Homo sapiens: one gene and its partner. The protein of the gene in region 1 purifies or fractionates together with the protein of each later gene. This does not show direct contact. Each region holds a gene or a part of one and is shown on either strand. Other genes may lie near its edges.

Region 1 (7,026 bases):
CAGAGTCTCACTCTATCACCCAGGCTGGAGTGCAGTGGTGCCATCTCGGCTCACTGCAACCTCCACCTCCCAGGTTCAATCGATTCTCCTGCCTCAGCCTCCCGAGTAGCTGGGATTATAGGCACCCGCCACCATGCCCGGCTAATTTTTATATTTTTTAGTAGAGATGGGGTTTCACCATATTGGCCAGGCTGGTCTTGAACTCCTGACCTTGTGATCCGCCCACCTTGGCCTCCCAAAGTGCTGGGATTACAGGTGTGAGCCACCGCACCTGGCCAGGAGCTTTTCAACTTTGTTTAATGCATCTATATTGCCAACCACAAGCTGAGCTTACAGACTCCCGCAAAGGAGTCTGTACCCATTTCACAGATGACGTCACTGAGGCCCTCACCAAGGTCAAACAGTCAGGGCTGGATGCATTAAACCAAGGATGGGGCCCTTCAGAGAGTGGCCCAATTCTCTGACAGACCAATTCTTTGACAGACAGGACCAGAACTCTGGTCTCCTGGGCCCCTCTGGGCTCTCTCTGGAGACACCTAAGGGAACTTTAATGAGCTTCTTTTTCTTTTTTTAAAGTAGAATCTTTGTGGCTTCACTTGTCCCCTTTTGCAGGTAACTATTTGGAGGCAGAGGCTACAAACAACCTTTAATCCTGGTGGCTCACACCCTGCCCAGCCTCCCTCAAGCAGGCTCCAGACAATGAGTCAGGAATTCATGGACAAATAGGGCTCTGGGGCAGTGGGGCTTCTAAAAGTATGGCGTGTGGGCCAGGGAGGCAGAGCTTCTGATTCCCAAGAGGAGCCAGAAGTCAGGCTTTGGGTGTGCAATCTGTTTCAGTGTTGCCACATAGTTTTCACAGACACACGAGCCCAGACAAGCTGATTCACTCGCTGCAGCTTTGTTTGTGGTGTCAAAACTTGGGAAATAACCTAAGTGGCCATTGCCTGGGGATTGGCCAAATGAATTCAGTCCACATCATCTCTGCAGCCAGGAAAACACCTGGGCAGTTGTCTATAAGTGGACGTGGAGAGATGTCCAGGACATCTAGGTAAGTGCAAAAAGCAAAGTGCCAAATAGCAGCCATTTATGTTAAAAAAAAATCTATATAGTTAAGACCGGCTTTTCCCTTATTTCCTTTTAAAGTACTAGCATATTACATTGTTTTCTTTTAATTGTAAATTAAAATAAAAAAATAAAAGGGGGCCATGCATGGTGGCTCACACCTGTAATCCCAGCACTTTGGGAGGCCGAGGCAGGAGGATCATTTGAGACTAGGAGTTCGAGACCAGCCTGGCCAACATGGTGAAACCCCATCTCTACTAAAAATACAAAAATTAGCCAGGCATGTGGCGGGTACCTGTAATCCCAGCTATTCGGGAGGCTGAGGCAAGAGAATCACTTGAATCTGGGAGGTGGAGATTGCAGGGAGCTGAGATGGCACCACTGCACTCCAGCCTGGGCGGCAGAGTGAGACTCCATCTCAAAAAATAAAAACTAAAATAAAAATAAAAATAAAATAAATAAAAGGGGTTAGGCCCAGTGGCTTACTCCTGTAATCCAAGCACCCTGGGAAGCTGAGGCGAGAGGATTGCTTGAGCCCAGGAGTTCAAGACCAGCTTGGGCAACATAGCAAAACCCTGTCTCTATTAATAAACAAAACAAAACAAAAAATTTTAAACATTAAAGGAAATAAGGCCGGGTGCAGTGTTTCACACCTGTAATCCCAGCACCTTGGGAGGCCGAGGCAGGCAGATCACCTGAGGTCAGGAGTTTGAGACCAGCCAGGCCAACGTGGCGAAACCCCATCTCTACTAAAAATACAAAAACTAGCCAGGTGTGGTGGCAGGCGCCTGTAGTCCCAGCTACTCGGGAGAGGCAGGAGAATCGCTTGAACCCAGAAGGCGGAGGTTACAGTGAGCTGAGATCACGCCATTGCACTCCAGCCTGGGTGACAAGAGTAAAACTCCATCTCAAGAAAAAAAAAAATTAAAGGAAATAAAAACACCATGTGGGTGACATAGAACATGTGACTAGGGTATGCCCCAGGCAGCTGCTCCATAAGGCACAGAAGACCTTTAATGACAACAATTTTATCATGGGTGTTTAAAATATACTGAGCAGTTACTACATATCAGGCGCCTGCTGAAGTGATGTCCTTTTGCAGATGAGAAAACTGACCATCAGAGTGGTCAAGGAAGTAGCCCAAAGCCACCCAACTAGTCAGCAGAGACCAGAATTCCATGGCCAGAGGTCTGGCTCCTAAGATCCCGCTCTCGCCCCGCTCTATCCTGTTCCTGCTGCCCCTGGTCCCTCCCTCTATTCCCCATCACCCTATCACCTTGACGACATTCTGGGTCAGGAGCCCAGGCCCCCACTTAAGCAGCGGGGCCAGGCAGGTCCCTGTGAAGGGGTCAGGGCCAGAGCAGGTGAGAAGGGCTCCTCCTGTGTCCACCCTCTCTTCTTTTTAGGACTCTGTGCATGCTGTTCTCTTCACTCCCTGTGCACCTGACACTGTTCCTGCAGATCTCACCCTGGAAACCTCCATCTCCAGGAAGCCATCCATGATGCCTCCTCTGACCCCACACTCCCCCCACACGAGGCCCATTGCTCATGCCTGTGGCCTTGTCTACGTTTGTCTTTCCCTACCTAAATGTGAAGTCGGGAGGCCCAGAACCATGTCTGGCTCACTCACCAGGGCCCTGACACTCAGTAAATGCTTGCAGAATGAGCAAATTCCCAACCACAATCCTAACGGACAACTCCATGGCTTTGTCTCTGGGTGCCGCTCACCGACATACCTTGGGAAGGAAGTACTGGGTTCCCCATTTGTCATGATAGGGAAACTGAGGCTCAGGGAGAGAGAAGGCCTTCTCCAGGTCACACAACAGCAAGCTGCTCCTGACCTACCCTGACCCAGAACCAGGACAGCTGCCCTCCCCTGCCCCTTGAAAAGACCAAGGCTCAGAAGGGGAACGGAACACACCAGGGTTACATGCCCTTGGCTCCTTTTGTGCAGAAGAAGACCGTGAAGCCCAGGAAGGAGAAGGACCTCAACAGAGGTCACATAGCAGAGGTCACAGGGGCCTAGATCTCCTGGTTCCCCAATTCTCAGGCGAGGGCTGTTTCTCTTGAGCCACGCAGCACCCCCACTGCCCCAGCAGCCGCCCCAGCCTGGGGATCACCATGATCAGGCCCAGCAAGGCCTTCCCCTTTCTGATTCTTGTTTGTAGCCAAGGCCCAGGGCTCAGAAGCAGAAAACCCCGAGTGGGTGGGGTGGGAGGACACGGAGAGGCGGTGAGAAGGAAAGAACAAGTGAACCTTCCCGATCGACCTGCCTGCCTGCCCCACAGCATGCAGGGACAGGAAGTGGGCAGAGCCAACTGCAACATGATCAAATAACAGTTACCCTAACAATGGCTGACACACACTGAAGCCTGTCATGCGCTGGGGTGTGGCCCATATCGGAGAGGTTGCAAACTGACTCCCTCTGACATGTTTTGCCCTCAGTTTTAAAAAGTGAGCTAAATTTGAAAATCACGTAAAATTCCTAGTTTCCTGCTTCCCTCAACAACACAGGGCTCTGGCCACCCTAGGCCTAAACAATAAGTAATAGCTGCCCCCATCCAATGGGATATGAGCTCCAGGTTCACCCTGGTCCTCTCCCTTCCCTGGGGTCTCACACTGGGTGGCCAGATTTGGTGGCAGCCCTGGCTGGGCCCCTGCAGTCATCTGAGTTTTTGAGTCTGAGGCACAGTCTCTCATTCAAGTATCAGCCCGTCAAGGAAGGAACTGAGTGATCTCATTTCCTAGACAAGGAAACTGAGGTTCAGAGCTGGGTTTGGATCCCAGACACATCAATGAGACATGTTAGCCTGGACGTTCGGGGCAGTCCTGAAACCAAAGATGATCCAGCTCTCTCCCCACGCCATGGAGAACGTCCTCCAAATCTGAATATTTTTCCATCTAAACTCCATCTCTCTTTGGCCTCTGGAAGCTGGATCCTTCTGCAGACCAAATACCTTAATTCTCATCCATAAAGAATGCATACACAATGGCCGGGTGTGGTGGCTCATGCCTGTAATCCCAGCATTTTGGGAGGCCGAGGTGGGCAGATCACGAGGTCAAGAGTTCGAGATCAGCCTGGCTAACATGAACATGGTGAAACCCCGTCTCTAAGAATACAAAAATTAGCCAGGTGTGGTGGTGTGCACCTGTAATCTCCTAGCTACTCGGGAGGGTGCACCTGTAATCTCCTAGCTACTCGGGAGGCTGAGGCAGGAGAATCACGTGAACCCAGGAGGCAGAGGTTGCAGTGAGCCGAGATCGTGCCACTGTACTCCAGCCTGGGCGACAGAGCAAGACTCCGTCTCCAGGGGGAGAAAACATACACAACTTAAGTAGCTTTCACTGAGCAACTGGAACATGCCAGATACAGGGCTAAGATGATCTCAGCACCCCTCACCACCTCCTGGAGCTAGGGACCCTCTGTCCCATCCTTCAGAGAGAGAAGCTGGGCCTGGAGAGGTCAAGGCACTTGTCCAAAGTCACTTGAGGGTCACCAAAGTCACAGCATGGATCATCAGCCTGGCAGGGCCTGTGGGGTCAACTGGCCTAAACTGTATCACTTAACAGATGAGCAGACTGAGGTGGGGACAGGGAGGGTGGCTGCTCAGGACACAGGAGGCCCGGGCTGTCTTCTGGCTGTAGTGCTGAGGTCCTGCTATCAGAGCCAGCCCCTGGCTTGGCAGGGTTTGAAGATCTGAGCCAAAAGCAGTAGCCACTTATTGGCCTGAGGAAGGGGCTGGCCTCGTGTGGTAGGTATGGGGAGCTAGGAAGAGCAGGGGAGGCCTGGGGTCATGCCTTTGTCATCCTGCTTTCCAGGGGACAGGCTGCAGTCAAAGGCTTGGTGGGCCCAACTCTTCTGGTTCCAGGCAGAGACAAGCCCCAAATAAGCTGGACTTCTGAGGACCCCTGGCCTCCAGCAGACCCTCAGCCTCAGGGAGATGGGGGACAAGAGGTAGAGAGAAGGTGGGGATGAGAGATGGACAGAGGGACAAATAAGAGATGAGAGACAAATAAGGAATCAGAGCCATGGGAAGATGAGAAACAGGCTGAGTGCCGCGGCTCATGCCTGTAATCCCAGCACTTTAGGAGGCAAAGGTAGGAGGATCACTTGAGGTCAGGAGTTGGAGACCAGCCTGGGCAACATAACTAGATCCTGCCTCTACAAAAATAAAAATAAAAATTAGCTGGGCGTGGTGGCTCACACCTGCAATCTCGGCACTTTGGAGGCTGAGGCGGGAGGATCATTTGAGCTCAGAAGTTTTGGGTTGCAGTGAGCTGCAATCGCTCCATCACACTCCAGCCTAGGTAACAGAGCAAAACCTTGTCTCAAAAACAAACAAACAAAAAAACCGAAAGAAACAAAGATGAGAAACAGAGACAAAAGGAGCAAAAAACAGAAAGCCCATCTGGGGGACTGAACCCCTGGGTTCAGCTTTGGGAGTACAGGCCAGGACTCTCACCCAGTACTCCTGACACCCTCCACCTTTCCCTTCCCCCTGTGCCAAGAGCCTCTGTAATCCCCAGGGCAGGGGGCACCCACAGTTGGCCTGGGTGGGGTACAGGTGGATCAAGGACCGTGAGGCTGCACCCATGAAGCCTGGGGCACCTGAGAAGTAGCACACACATGGCCAGATTTCAGCTGGGACCTCCTGGGAAGCTGGACACCCGCCTCACCCTCTGGCCTGCCAAGCTGGCCAGGCCCTTCACAAACCCTGACATCTGGCATGAGGTGGGCTGCTGCTGGGAAACTCAGCCCAGAACAGGACAGAACGGCTCCTGGGTCCTGCAGGACCAGGGCTCAACCTCTGGGCCAGACACTTGGGGCCTGCGAAATCAGGCTGTGGCCGCCTCCCTGCTGCACCTGTCACCATTCCCTCAGCCCCATGCTGCTCTGGTCCAACTACTCACAGCTCCCTACACACAGAGGCCCATTCTCTGCCACCTGCCCTGCACACATGCTGTTCTGATGATCCGGAATACTCGCCCCCACCTCCCACACACTCACCCCTGGCTGGCTGACTTCCATAGTGAAGAGTAAGAACACAGAACCTAGCGCACCCCCACCCGGCCCAGTCCCGGGTTCCAGGCCTAGCCCTACTGCTGCCCGGTGCCCCGCCGTATGACCTCAGGCAGCCTCTCCCATTTTCTAAGCCTCAGGAAATGTTCCAACAAAAGTGGACTGGGTGCTCATGAGGGGCCAAGCACTTTAATCAAACCAAATAGGTTCAGTCCCTGTCCTGCTGGCCTTCCCATCAGGTGAGGGCAGATGCGGGCCTAACCCCGATCAGGGTGAGCTTTAGGAAGAGCATGCCTGGGGTGGGGGTTGGGAGGGGTTGCAGCCTCCTCCTCTGTGAATGCAGTTAATATCAAGGTACAGCTCACACGGTTGTAGTGGGGATGCACGGAGAGCAGGTGAGGAAAATGCCAGCACAGTGAGGCTCAATCACTCGGCTATGTTGATTGCCATGATTATGGCTGTCAACTGTCACAGTGCCAAACCACCTCCAGCCCCAGTAATCTCAAACATTCTGCTCCTAGAACCCAGGAACTTCTTCTACTCTTCCCTCCAGCCTACATGTGTCCTCCATATTCCCTAAACATGCCTGGCAAGCTCCCACCTCAGGGTCTCTGCATTTGTTGTTTCCCTGGTCTGGACCAACCCTTCTTCAAATATCCTCAAGGCTCCCTCCCTCCAGTCCTTCCTCCCTTCAGGCCTCACTTCGAATGTCACCTGCTCAGGGAAGCCTTCACTGCCCCCTCCCTAAAATGTCATTCCTGTCCCCAACATTTCAGATCCCCCTCTCCTGCTATGTATTTGCTCCACAGCGCTTGCCACCACTGGGCACGTGAGACAGTTATTTGTCAAGTTTATGGCCCGGCTATTTACTAAAATGCCAGCTCCGTTTTTTTCTTTTTCTTTTTTTTTGAGACAGAGTCTCGCTCTGTCATCCAGGCTGGAAT
Region 2 (7,067 bases), on another chromosome or scaffold:
TCTTTTAAGCTCATCAGCTATCATTAGTGTTAGTGTATTTCATATGTGACCCAATTATTCTTCTTCCAATGTGGCCCAGATAATTCCTCTTCTTCCAATGTCGCACAGGGAAGCCAAAAGATTGAACACCCTTGCTCTATCACCTGATTCCTGGTGTTGCCTCAAAATTTACTACTGGTGCTCACAGAAATCTCCCTACCCCGTTACTAGCCAGTATTGCTTCCTTAGTAACCATGTGCTGCATAGATACTAGCTAATGTAGAAAGTGTTAGGTATCTTCCTGATACAGTAAGTAAATCCGTGGGATCAGAAAGATGTTATTAATTAAGGGTAGTTGTGGAATTAAGGGCTGAAAAAGGAGGTTGGAAGTAGAAATGGGTATGCAGAAGGACATGAAGTTGAGAGGGGAATGGAAGTAGAGAATAGATCCAGTATTTTCAAACACCAAATTTAAAGTAGTCAGAAACATAAACGCAATGTATAACAGAGTCAGAGGCATAAAATGTCACAATAAGTCAATTTTGGCAGCATGGCAGCAGGAATGAGTCAGATCTGAACCATACAACTAACATGAACACAATTAGAAAGCCACTGCTTTCAAAAACAAGAAGTAACAAGCAAATGGACATTCTTCATTCTTTCTTTAATATCCATCCTTTCTTTATCAGTTTTAAGAGTTTTGGCAAAATTAATATTTTATGGGTGAGAAGCTACAAGACAGTAGCAGTGGTTAAGTGTCCAGGGCTTCTAACATTGGGTCTGACCCTGGCTAAATTTCTCACTGAGCTACTCGCTAGTAGTTCCTTCAGTTTTCCTCGTATACGTCGATTAAAAAAAATACCGTTTGTGAAGCTGTGTTTATTCTAGAATAAGTGTTTAACATATGTAAGTTACCAACTGTGTCTCCCTTAAACACCCTTTAACTTCAGTTACAAGTTAAAACGTTCTATCAGCTTAAAAGGGAGTCTAATTTCTGTCTCTAGGGGGAAAAAAAAATCATGAGACTATAAGTCAACGAGCACGGTAATTATGCCACAGCACCGAGAAAAAAAGCATTTAGTGTAGATTAAGAAATATTTAAAGATGACAGATCCAACATCTGGCTTACGCAAAATGGAACTTGCTTGTGTATTTACCTCTTTTAACTTATTTCTGTCAACTGTACAAGGTCAAACCTCTTCCTAAAAAACCTCCTAACCAACCTTTCTATTTAGTTCTTGTCTCCTACTCCGTATCTCCATTTTCTTCTCCTTCCATTCACTCAATCAGTTTACTTGAAAAATGTATTCTAAGTCTCTAAAAAAACCGTCATTTCGCTAAAGTAAATATACTTATTGGAATTTCTCTGCTGTAACTAGTACTGCTGACCACCCAAGTTTTGAGACGGTTTTCCTGGTCGCTTTCTGTTTCCTAGGCACTGCACCAATTCACACATGGATACAGACTTCCAACAAATGACTATCGCCCCTGAACTTTATTGTCTCATAAGCAAAGCGTCAGTCTTTCCCCTGTATTCTATATTAAAGTAGAATATCTGCAGACATAAGTGCAATTAATGTTTTACATAGGCTGCCAACACCAAAGGGCTTTAAAATCGTTTCTCGATTTTGTCATCGACTGAAATCTCACAATTTTCCTCATGAGTAGCATCATATTTGCATCATAAAAATGTCAGTGGCGGTAACTTGAGTATTGCATAGGTTGGATTTTCCTTTTCCTTAAAACTCTGTATCAATGGTCTTATTTTAAATAACGCTATCAATTTACCTGTGTGCCAAAAATAAGTATTTCAAACATCTCAGAGGTGAAGAGTTCAAAAGGCATCAGTTTTCATCTCCTCCACAATAATGAAGGATGTTATTAATACAACCTCATTGAACTGAGCTTCTCTATCAAATGGGTCTAATTAACATTACATGCGTCCCAGGGTGGTTATGAAGATTAAATAAGATAAAGCAATAATGGCTGGCATGCAGAAAATATAAACTAAATGCTAGTTCAATCTGAAAACGTGTTGTCACTTCTCACGATACGCAAGGAATCATCTCACTTCTTTGTCAATCAAAATTTCAATTCACTGATCATTTCCCGTCCTTCACCTAATAGTCATTTTCGCTTTGGATCCTTAACTCGACATCTAGGTGCTGTAGATGACATTCACTCATTTTATACGGGAGTAGGCATGGTAGTAAAACGTGGAGGCCACAAGAAGAACAAGCAACAAATGCCGCTAGTAATAAAAAGATAACTAACGTACCACCAGGATGAACCTATCAAAACAGCGTGAAGATACAGAGTAATGTCCCTTACCAAGAACACTTGTAAGAGGTTTGTAACAGCGGATCGACTGAACACAAACTTCTACAAGGCAGAGCTTACATGCTAGGACAACCCGCTGCTCATCCCGGCCACCTCTCCCTCTCGCGCAGGCAATCACAGCCATCACTACTTCGGGAACTACAAAGCAAGCTCACCAGTACCTCGTTAATTTTTGCTTCCCCAGAGACTGGAGGGCCAGAGGAGAAACGTGTTCGTTCTAAATTCCAGGCGACTTAAAAGGAGTGCGGGGACGACGGGGGAAACACGTGGATCCATGGGAGCGTCTCTCTCCGCAGTGGCAGAGGACAGTCAGGCGCCGGGGCCGGGCGCTCGCCAAGGGAACGCGGCGCAACAGAGGGGCGGCCGGCGGGCTGCGCGGGCAGCCAAGGGAGGCCCAGGAGGGGCATGGACCTGGGGCCGCGCGAGGACGGCTGCAGGAGATCCGCGGACACCCTCCGGCCCAAAGGGCCTCCCCTGCTGATGAGGTGGAGGGGAGGGAGGGCTGGCGGCGCGTTCCTCTTACCGTCGGAATTGGTCTCAGGATCGAAGCGCTGACCGCAGCCCCGGTTGTAGCACAGCAAGGCCATTTTCTTTTCCCACCGTCACAGGCAAGGCCCAAACACCGGGAACGGCAAGAGGATGCGTTTGCCACTCCCGTGTCGCTAGCACCGGTCTGACGACTGAGGCGGCTACCGGCTTCCGGAAACGATCCGTTGCGTTTCAGGAACCTTCGCGAATTTTCCGGTCGCGCAGGCGCAGAGGAGAAGGGACGAGGCGGAGGTAGCGGCGGGAGGCTGGCACTAGCCCGGGCCACGATAGGTCGGACTACAGCTGGTAGCAACTGGGGGTCGGAAGTGGAGCCCAGACAACAGCGGAGGAGAAATTTCCGGGGCAGAAAATGAAGGTGTCCGAGAGACTGACAATTCTCTTCTGACTTCCTCAGTGCTAACTGGCTTTGGGTATCTCCTGCAGCAAAGTGGCCGCCCCGCCCTCTCATCCCCTGCGACCCAGCACCCTTCTTCCTTGCCTTGAGGCTGCGCCTTAGACAGCCCGGTGGGTATCTGTTTACCCCTTAGCACTAAGGGATAAGTGCACAGTAAGTGCAGAATCATACAGTGTTTCCAAATCCTCAGGGTAGACGTGTGAGCTTAGTAAATGAGAGGAATAGCGGACGAACCTCTCCGTGTGTTTGTGTCTCGAGTGCCCTCATCTCAGGAGCAATTTTAATAACTTAACAGTTGCGGTCACATTACTTTGAAAATACAAAAAACGTAGAAATCAGAGTAGCAAAGAAAATTATGGATCTGATGCTGTGCCAGAATTGATCACAGTTGCTCTAAAGCCCTGGGGTAATAGTTAATATTTCATGTGAGCCTCCACTTAAACGATTTATCAATACTCAGTACACCACTCTTGGAACAGCTAGTAAAACTTCAGGTGCATTATAAAAAGTACAGTAATGCATTGGCTTCAACTTGCATATTTCCCAAACATGGGCGTTTGCAAGAAAAGCAAACACTTTTTGATAACATATACTGAAGGATCTTAAAATAAGATCAGCAGCTTATAAGTGAACCTAAAAATCTATACACTGTTTCCATTGATCTCAAGGTTATTTAGAGATCTGCTCACGTCCTCCTACCCCTAAAGACTTTTTAGTTTTTCATATTCTCTTTCTCTTCTTCTACCTAGAAGTATTAAATTTTCATATTGTGATCCACCATAGATAGGTATGTTTTCTTCATTTAACCTAACGTGAGTATTTTTCTATTTTGTTTCATAGTCATTGTTACAAATGACGGAGTATTCTGTTGAATAAATGCACTGTAATTTAACCTTTCTCTAATTTCCCCAACTTTATTATATATAAGTTACAGTGCTCAACCTGTGTATTGTTTTTCTTATTTCGAATTTCCCCCTTTAGGAAAATTTTTGGAAAGCGACAGTTCTGGGGTAAAGGGCATAAGGCTTTTTAAATAACTTTAAGATTTTAAAGATATATAGAGCCAATTGCTTTCCGAAAGGTGGTACCAATTTACAATTGCACCGGCTGTGAATGTAATAGACCGTAGAAATTGATCATACACAATTGGAAATGAGTAAGTGGAGAGCTCTAAAAAGTTTTAGTTGTGACCAAATCTGTTGTCTTGAGTATCCTAGTATCAATGCAACATTACCAGGATTGTTAGTGAACTAAACCTTTTAAATAATTTTAATGTTTATTTCTAGTTTTTCATCTGTAGCATTTTACAATCAGAATATAATTGCTTATGGTAGATAATTTGGAAAACGCAGAAGTATACTAAGAACAAAGTCAACAATAATTCCACCACCCAGCAATAAGTACTGAATGGCTAAAATAACTCTTTGGTAAATTTATTTTCAGTGTTTCCTGACACCCCAAGCATTTATAGATATATATGTTTAAAAAGAGTCGTGTTATATATAGGAGTTTATGTTCCTCCCTTGGGTATTTTGAGAAACTATAAAATTAAATCATTCTTATGATTAAGAAAAACAGTGTTACAGCAACAGCCTGTTTCAATCCCACCTCCACTTACATTTCCATTCCAACACTTCAGTGCTGACTAACACCCACTGTTTGAAAAACTTTCTAGAATTTACATGTATATTTTATATACACTTTGAATATATCTTCCCTTCCTTCTTTACCCCCATACATATCAAAATATGCTTTAACTTTGACTATCTTGTTATTAACAAAAGACTTAAATAAATATGTTAACTTAAAACAATTGTCAATTATTCTTGGTGCAAAATGAATGTTTATCATACTACTCTCTTTTTCTGCATTTAAAAATATTTCTTAAAACAATTCAGTTAAGTTTAATTAAGCTCCATTATCTTGGGCTGGGTGCTGTGGCTTACGGCTGTAATCCCAGTACTTTAGGAGGCCAAAGTAGGTGAATCACCTGAGGTCAGAAGTTTGAGACCAGCTTGACCAACATGACGAAACCCTGTCTCTACTAAAAATACAAAAAAATTAGCTGCGTATGGTGGCGCATGCCCGTAACCCCAGCTACTCGGGAGGCTGAGGCAGGAGAATCACTTGAACCGGGGAGGCAGAGGTTGCAATGAGCTGAGATCATGCCATTGCATTCCAGCCTGGGTAACAAGAGCGAAACTCTATCTCAAAAAAAAATTAATTAATAATATAAATAAATAATAATTAAGTTCCATTATCTTAAAAACGATTATAGATATGTATGTATCCATGTACGTGTATAAAATAATATTTGAAAAGACCATTAATCTCTTATAATAACGGATATGTATAAAGACAAGGATGAGTTTAAAGGAGTAAAGTTAATATTTTACTTTATACTCTTAGATATGTTTTGAAAATGTAAATACATACTCATTTTTGATATAGTTAACATTATGAAGAGGACAAAAAACCAACTTAACAATGACTATTTTTATTTGTTCTACTTTATTCGAAAGATGAAAATTTCATCCATTATGATTGTGTGTTGAGCAGTTTGTGGTTTCTGTATTTTGAACATATATTATTCATCCTATAAAGGTGCATGTCTTTCGTATTTACATAGTTTATGTTTTTAATATAAAATGACCTTCTTTGTATCATTTTGTATTTTTGTCTTGAAACCTACTTTGATATTAATGCTTCAACTTTTGCTATGTTTCTCTTTGTTTTTGCCTAATAAACCTCACCCTATCCATTTATATTTAACCTGTGTCATCTTGTTTTGGGCATATCTGCTGTAAGCAGCAGATAGATTGCATCTTGTTTTTCTTTTTTTAACTCAAATCCGAGAATCTTTTTATTTTGCAGAGAAGCTTAACCTTTTTATTTCTGATTAATGCTTGAAAGTTCAGGTGCCAAAGTGGCCCAGAACTTATTAATGGTTTTATAAGTCAATTAACGTCAATAAGCCTGAGTTTTCTTATCTGTAAAACATTGATAACAGAGTGCTGTGAAGATTAAGTTAAACAATGCATGTAAAACATATAGTCTAGTGTAAGCACTGAATGATAATTTCACAAAAGTTTAGCAATGAAAATGGTCAACTTAGATGTTTAGTCCTATTTGGTTATTTCACTTTTGTTTTCCCTTTTATATGCAGTTGTGTCTGCTTCCTTGCTTTTATTTTATTCTATTTTCTAAATAAAGTATGTGCTTGCTTTTTTATTTTGTCCACGATTTAAAAAAAAAATATATATATAGGTTTTAATTTATTTCAGCATGTATTAAGTAGTTAATGTGTGTTGGTACATTAGATGCAGGATACAGTGGTGAACTGAAGTGACATTTTACCTGTCTTCGTTGTATTTGAATTTTATAAGAAAGACGGATGTGAATCAAATATTCCCAATTATGAATTCAATCACTGATAATTGCCATAAATGCTATGAATGGGAAGTACGTTATGCTAAGTTAGTGGAGATGGGAATTTGCCTAATCTTGAGTTGGAGTGCAGGCATAGGTGTTAGTCTAAACAGAAGTCCTGCAATGGAAGGTAGTATAACATTAAAGAAAGCACAGAATCATCGAGGTAAACCAATGCTCAGAAATAAGGGATACCAGATGTATTAGGACATTCTTGCATTGCTATGAAGAAATACCCAAGACTGGATAATTTATAAGAAAAGAGGGTTTAATTGGCTCACATTTCTGCAGGCTATACAGGAAGGGCTCAGGAAGCTTTAACTCATGGCAGAAGGCAAAATGAGAGCTTGTACTTCACATGGTAAATGCAGGAGCA

The links. Proteins that work in one complex are often made in the same cells at the same time.
Region 2: the proteins of PEDS1-UBE2V1 (region 1) and CHORDC1 fractionate together in Homo sapiens (co-fractionation; 2 studies listed by BioGRID). This does not show direct contact.

What each region holds. Positions count from the first base shown.
Region 1 is NC_000020.11:50,143,720-50,150,745, forward strand, and holds part of PEDS1-UBE2V1 (TMEM189-UBE2V1 fusion protein), read right to left. Parts: intron 175-7,026; coding exon of another isoform or gene 10-174; intron 1-9.
Region 2 is NC_000011.10:90,220,049-90,227,115, forward strand, and holds the start of CHORDC1 (cysteine and histidine-rich domain-containing protein 1), read right to left. Parts: upstream 3,002-7,067; 5' UTR 2,907-3,001; coding exon 2,843-2,906; intron 2,652-2,842; exon of another isoform or gene 2,481-2,651; intron 1-2,480. UniProt on the Homo sapiens protein: Regulates centrosome duplication, probably by inhibiting the kinase activity of ROCK2. Proposed to act as co-chaperone for HSP90. May play a role in the regulation of NOD1 via a HSP90 chaperone complex. In vitro, has intrinsic chaperone activity.